Linked DNA regions of Homo sapiens. The protein of the gene in region 1 purifies or fractionates together with the protein of each later gene. This does not show direct contact. Each region holds a gene or a part of one and is shown on either strand. Other genes may lie near its edges.

The links.
Region 2: the proteins of RTL10 (region 1) and TGFBRAP1 purify together in Homo sapiens (affinity purification with mass spectrometry; one large-scale study listed by BioGRID and IntAct). This does not show direct contact.

The regions. Positions count from the first base shown.
Region 1 is NC_000022.11:19,848,761-19,852,190, reverse strand, and holds part of RTL10 (protein Bop), read left to right. Parts: coding exon 1-1,024; 3' UTR 1,025-3,430. UniProt on the Homo sapiens protein: Could induce apoptosis in a BH3 domain-dependent manner. The direct interaction network of Bcl-2 family members may play a key role in modulation RTL10/BOP intrinsic apoptotic signaling activity.
Region 2 is NC_000002.12:105,274,222-105,278,037, forward strand, and holds part of TGFBRAP1 (transforming growth factor-beta receptor-associated protein 1), read right to left. Parts: intron 3,451-3,816; coding exon 3,393-3,450; intron 1,483-3,392; coding exon 1,339-1,482; intron 1-1,338. UniProt on the Homo sapiens protein: Plays a role in the TGF-beta/activin signaling pathway. It associates with inactive heteromeric TGF-beta and activin receptor complexes, mainly through the type II receptor, and is released upon activation of signaling.

The DNA.
Region 1 (3,430 bases):
ACATCCATGGCAGCAGATGGACAAGGCGTCTCCTGGGGTGGCATACACCCCCCTTGTGGATCCCTGGATTGAGCGGCCCTGCTGTGGGGACACCGTGTGTGTGCGAACGACCATGGAGCAGAAGAGCACAGCTAGTGGCACTTGTGGCGGTAAACCTGCAGAAAGGGGTCCCCTAGCTGGGCACATGCCCAGCTCCCGACCCCACAGGGTGGACTTCTGCTGGGTACCAGGCTCAGACCCAGGCACCTTTGATGGCTCCCCGTGGCTACTGGACCGCTTCTTGGCCCAGCTGGGCGATTACATGTCCTTCCACTTTGAGCACTATCAGGACAACATCAGCCGTGTCTGCGAGATCCTCAGGCGCCTAACAGGCCGAGCCCAGGCCTGGGCAGCCCCCTACCTTGATGGGGACCTGCCCCTGCCTGACGATTACGAGCTCTTCTGCCAGGATCTCAAGGAAGTTGTTCAAGACCCGAACAGTTTTGCTGAGTACCATGCTGTGGTTACCTGTCCCCTGCCCCTGGCCTCCAGCCAGCTGCCAGTGGCCCCTCAGCTGCCTGTGGTGAGGCAATACTTAGCTAGGTTCTTAGAGGGCCTGGCACTCGACATGGGTACTGCCCCCAGGTCTTTACCAGCCGCCATGGCCACCCCTGCTGTGTCTGGGTCCAACTCTGTATCTAGAAGTGCTCTGTTCGAGCAGCAGCTGACCAAGGAGAGCACCCCTGGGCCCAAGGAGCCCCCAGTCCTGCCCAGTTCTACATGTAGCTCCAAGCCTGGTCCTGTGGAACCAGCCTCTTCCCAGCCAGAGGAGGCAGCCCCCACACCTGTCCCTAGACTGTCGGAGTCAGCTAATCCTCCTGCCCAGAGACCAGACCCAGCTCATCCAGGAGGTCCAAAACCCCAGAAAACAGAGGAGGAGGTTTTGGAGACAGAGGGAGACCAGGAGGTGTCCTTAGGTACCCCACAGGAGGTGGTGGAGGCCCCGGAGACCCCAGGAGAGCCACCACTTTCTCCTGGGTTCTGAACACAGCCCAGGTGGGAACAATGCTGCCCCTCATGATGAAGTGGCCTGTGTGGCTTGAGCGCCCCATAGTCCCCAGTCAGAGCAGAGTGGTGTCCCCAGATGACTTCAGACCCCATAGCTGGGCAAGATGCGCTTGTTTTGGACTCTGCGCTGAGCAGAACCAGCTCCCCCAACTCCAGCAGAGCTTGACCTCCGCCCTGTGCCCTTTCCCTGCTGCTGGCTCTCTGCTGCATCCCTGCCCGTCTTCTGGGAGTGCCGTCTCACCCAGGCCTGCTCCCACGAGGGGGTCGTTTTGTAGATCAACTCTCAGCAGATAGTTGCATCATCTTTGTCACCTCCACCCCCATAAAACACCCCCCTTGGTGTCTTCCACACTGGCTGGGACTGAACTGGGTCTGCCACGTCTGCCCTGTTGGGACCTCGTTCCTGTATGGGGTTTCTGTGTCTGTCCCCCTAGCCCCACCCTCTCTGCTCCCTGTGACTTCTGTCCCAGCTGGAATGTGAGGAAGGCTGCCTGGAGGAAGTGGCCACTTTGATTCTGGGGGATGAGTGGGATAGCATCTTGGCAAAGAATGATGTTTCCTGTGGGATTACCAGCAGTTCTGGGCAGCTGGAAGGTTTGGATGCAGGAAGGTGGGATGCAAGCCCCTTGCCAGGCTCAGCTGCAGGCATTCGCCCTTTGTGTGTTAACACTGTAGCTCTAATCGTGCCTGGTGTTCTGAAGCAGGCTCCTCTTCCCTGCTGCTGTGCTGCCATCCCCTGCTCACTCCGCACTCGCATGCATTGCGGATTCAGCACTTAAGCCCTAGTGTGTAAATGACTTGGATCTCCCTCCTGGCAGACTGTGACCCTCAGCACAGGGGCTCTGTCTTAGTCAGCTCTGTGGCCTGGTACACAATTGGTGCTCATTAAACACGTGTTGGATTACTGGCTGAGGTGGTGCAGTGGCTGCCTACCAGCAAGTCTTTGTTTCCCATTCTGTCAGGAGCAGAGGCCTGGCCATGAGCATTCCAGGTCAGCATTGCAGCTGTGGTTTCTGGCAGGGGCTTTGAGGGTCCAAGGGTCTGATCAAAGAAGCTGGGTGGGGCTGAGTAGGGGGTGGGTGGCTCTGCAGGTAGAGAACTGACTTCCGAGAGCTGTAGGTGAAGTGAGGACCAGGCAGCAGTCCAGAGCTGTGAGGCCCCAGGCCCAGAGGAATGGAATGAAGAAAGACCTGTTCCACACAAGGAGGGGTTTTCTAGTGGAAGCTGAGCTTGGAAGCTCCTGGAGCCAAGTTTACCACAGGATAGGCAGGTACAGCCGCCCAGTGTGTGCAGTGTGTGCCCACTCTGGTGCTTGGACAAGAAGTTCAAGTCCCTTTCAGGTTTACAATTGTGAAAACAACAAAACAACACCTTCCTGGAAAGTAGGAAGAAAAAGCAGAAATGTGAATTGGAAATACAGCCAACTATTTTAGGAAAAACTAATTAGCAAGCATCTGATTAAACTTATTCAGAAACTGGCCGGGAGCAGTGTCTCACACCTGTAATCCCAGCACTCTGGGAGGCCAAGGTGGGTGGATCACCTGAGGTCAGGAGTTCAAGACCAGCCTGACCAGCATGGAGAAATCCATCTCTCCTAAAAATACAAAATTAGCCAAGTGTGGTGGTGCATGCCTGTAATCTCAGCTACTTGGGAGGCTGAGGCAGAAGAATTGCTTGAACCCAGGAGGCAGAGGGTGTGGTGAGCCGAGATCACGCCATTGCACTCCAGCCTGGACAACAAGAGTGAAACTCCATCCCAAAAAAAAAAAAACAACAAAAAACAAAAACCTTATTTAGAAAAATATAAATTGTTGGGATTATTTTATGGTAACTATCACTAGAAAAGGCTCTGGGTTCAGATGGTTTTATGTGTGAGTTATTTCAGGGCACAGATACCTTGTAGGTAAAACAACTGGAAACCTTGGAAATAGGTGGGAAGCTATTTTTAGAAAGCAGGTATAGCCCTGGTAGCAAAGCAAGTGAGCTGGCAGAAGAAACCCATTTTCAGTCTTGATTCTGGTCAGATGTGAGAAGTCCCTGGATGTCCTGGCCCAGCCCCATGCTTCTGTGCCAGGTCACAGCTGCCCTCCGTCCGATGACTCAGGCCCCATCCCCCCTTTTGTGGGTTGGGTCAGACTGCTCCCTGATGCCTACCTCCAGTGCACTGTGGCCTGGCTCACCTGTGGGTCTGGCAGTAGAACCCAGAGTTGCTCTCTAGGATGGACAGCCTAGTCACCCAGCTGACCTTTACCCTGTCCCACAGGCTTCTGGACAGGCCACCTTCCCCATCTCCCTTTAGTGGACCTGAAGTGGATACTCCAGCCTGGGATTGCTGCCTTCTCTTTTGAACCCTGTCCTATTGGGGCTTTGGGGCTTTTGTGCC
Region 2 (3,816 bases), on another chromosome or scaffold:
CGGGCTGCCTTCCTGTGTCCATCAAGTGGAGGCACTGGTCCAATCCTCTGGTTCAAGGAAAGGACAGTGAGGCAGGCAGGAAAGCAGCTCTCCACTGCACCTCCCCTGAGCACTTACATGTGGGAGGTTCTATCATGTGCACGCACACACGCACCTCCCCCCTCCAAGGCCAATACATTCACGTATCATGTATTATGGTATGAATTTTGGATTCTATAAGCCTGGATTTGTGTCCCAGCTCTACCAACTATAGCCTCAGTTTCCTCATCTGTAGCTAATGCCCACTGAGGGGCTGCTATGATGTTTAAGCGATGACCTTTGTCAGGGGATTGTCCACCGTGCAGTATCTGCTGTTATCATCCATAAGCATTGGGAGAAGCCTAAACCTTGCAACGGCACTGAGATCCATGTTGTAGGTGTGTGTGAGCAGGTCAGGATGTGCTCTGCAGGCGTGTGCACAGAGGCAAAGTAAAGATGGAGAAACAAGTATGCAAAGTGCAAGTGCCTGGCTCTGATTTTCCAGGGAAGCCAGCACCACGGAGGATATGAGAATATATTCCAACTCAGGTCTTAGAAAGGCAGATGCAGCACTCAGAAACTCTCCATTCAGGACCAACGTCCTGCATCAGAAAGCTCATTTTGTCTCTCCAAGGGGAGCCATGGAAGCGTATACGTTTTTCACGATGAGAACTGAAATGCTTGCTGTCTTCTTCCCAGTCACCTGTGGTCACCTGTGGGGCTTTACTAAGGATACTGTCCTGAGCCTGCTACCTTCCCTCTAGCCAACAGGTGCTTTTTCACTGCCAGCATTTCTCAGCCTCCAGGACAGGCCGAGTCTTGCTCATGGCTCCCCTCCCTCCTCCAGGCCCACAAGCTCCATGTTGGCAGTGGTGGGAGCAGGGATGAGGGCCCAGTGTGGCCCAGGTCTGGGTGCTTCCTCCTCCCAAAGATCAAGTCCTTCAGGGCAACCACCTAATCCTGCTCCAGAAAACAGCAGTGTCAGACTTCTGAGGGGTCGAGGAGCGGGGTTCACAGACACAAGTTCTTAAGAAGATGCTAAAAATGCAAGCTGGCTATGTCTTGCTTTTCTATACAAGTGACTTGCCCCAGCAAGGGGATTCTCAATGGAATGTCTCAGCAGCAAGATGCAGAACTGCCCTAGAGCTAGAATCCAGAGAGCTCAAGGGAAGGTATTAAAAGGGGAATAATAACAACAACAAAAAACAGAGGAGGAGGTTGAAATGTAGCTTTCTTTTCCCCTCCTAAAAGCAAAGCTTTTGGGGTCTGTTTTTACCACCTCCCCCAACCAAAGAGAATGCATTTTTACGAAGCACAAACCTCTTCACTTTTCTGCAGGACCCAATCAGCATAGGCCCACACTAGTTCCTCGTCTAAGCAGTAGGTAAGAAAATCCACGATGTATTCATACAGGTCTGAGCGTGTGGAGTCCTGGACATCGCCATTCACAATGTTCACCCACAACTGGAAAGGAATCAAAAAGAAAAAAAGAAAAAGAAAAGAAAAAACAATCATAAAGGCACATATCTCAGAATTAGTTGAGAAATGGCATATGTTTACTTATTTGGCTTTTTAATACCTTTTAAAGTAGTTGGAAAAACTGTAAATGCTTAAATTTTAGTTTTTTTGGAGAAATAAAGAAATGTAAAAAGACATAGTCCAAGAAATAAAAAAAAAAATTAAGCTCTAGGTTCTTTTATCTTTCTTTCTTTTTTTAACAATAACACAGTAAACAGAATATATGCAGGGAGGTGAATATATTAAAAATGTTTCTTCATGAAATAAAGAAAACGGTCACTGATAACATCTCGACACAGAGAAGATTCACCTACAACCATCAGCCAGGCTCTGTTTCCATCTTCTCCGTCACAGACATTCTTGATTTTGAAGTCCCCTTTGGACTGTGATAGGCAGATGTTGTGCTTTTACAAAAGCTTCAGTGATTCTGTCCCCTGAGTTCACACTGCCTTTTGCACAGGGGGCTCAGGATAGACTCCAGTGATAAAAGCCTTTTGCTTTTTCAGCCAGAAACTTCCCTACCATGTTAAGTGAAGCCTACTTTCAGGACCCCAGAATGAGGCAGCATCACTTGGGGGTAGAAAGGATGACGGTTGCGTGGGTTCCTTCTGCAATACCTGCATGGCGTGCCTCACCCACCCATACACAGCACCACCCCTCCAAGCCACAGCACCAGGAAGGAGCCCAGAAACAGGGGTGGCATATGAATTCTGGAATTCTGATGTCAGCATACGAACATTTTTTATGATACTAGTTTCTTCAACACAGAATTGCTGAAACCAAATAATCACACATACCTTGAAATATGCCATTTTATATAAAATTCTACCACGTATGGAGATTTATCCCATATCACTTCAAGTTTGCAAATCTATCTCTCTACAGCTCTGCTAAAGTTATTACTATACTTATATAAAGCTGTAACTGAGAACACCAGGTTTTTGAAAATGAAAATTTTATCACTGACACCCAAATCTACTCTTGGCCATTGGGTACGTGTTAATTCACCCAACTCCATTTTTTGTTGTTGTTGTTGTTCTGCTCTGCAATCAGGTTACCACAATAGTCTCACAAAGCAATCAAACACTAAATACATGTTCAGCCTTGCCAGAGTCATGAGGTTAACTTTAGCTTGGGGAACATGGCTGATGCTCTTGGCCCCTCACAAAATAAAGCAAAAAGGCACATCAGGAAACAACACGGTGCAGTACAAATGCATAACTAATAACGAAGGGGAGAAAGTCTCCCCCTGAGAGTGTGAGATGAGGCTTTTCTCAAGATCAGTAGCAAGATGTAAGATACAAAATGTGACAATGCTAATAAATCGATGCCATTTTGATTAGGGTGCAGGACCCCTGCCAGGCCAATGGAGCGCGGTTCAGATCCCAGATCTACCACGGACACATGGCCTCGGGCAAGCAACTGGCATGCATCAGCTTTGGTTTTGTCACAGGTGACACAAGGATAATAATGTACCCAGCTCATTGGCAACAGTGATCATCACTAACAGTGGAAATGGTAAATCCGACTATCATTCACTGCCTAAATTTTCTGATAAGGGTAGTGATATATTATGACTTGGAACTCTGTGAGATCATATTTTCATTTCTTAAGTTTTCAAAAACTCAGTCTTGATAATGTTCTTTAAGGAGATGGAAAGACAATGAGAAGAAAACTCTTGGCCAACATTTCTCCAGGAATTCACTTTCTAAAACAGAATCATTTTTATTCTGTATAAAAGGGTGTAGATCAGGCAAAAGTGGTCTCTATCAACTTGTGAATTTTTTTTAAGTAACACTAAGTATTACTTACATGGTGCTGATTTTTAAATCATGTGGAAACCCTTCTAGACTCACCTGAACTGCAGCAGCATCTTGGTTATTATAATGATAGAGCAGTCCAAGTGCAAAATACCTGAAACAGAACAACACGGTAAGTACAACCTCTCCCCATCAGCTCCTGGAGGCGACCTTCACACAGTGACACCCCCAGTCCAAGCTCCCCATATTCTATTCAACTCGAGTTCAGGCTCATGCCTGTAATCCCAACACTTTGGAAGGCCAAGGTGGGTGGATGGCTTGAGCCCAGGAGTTTGAGACCAGCCTGGGCAACAACATAGTGAGATCTTGTCTTTATTAAAATATTTTTAAAAATTAGCCAGGTGTGGGGCACACATCTGTAGTCCCAGATACTTGGGGTGCTGAGGTAGAAGGATCACTTGAGCCCATAAAGTTAAGACTGCAGTGAGCCCTGATTGTGCCACTGCACTCCAGCCCGGGT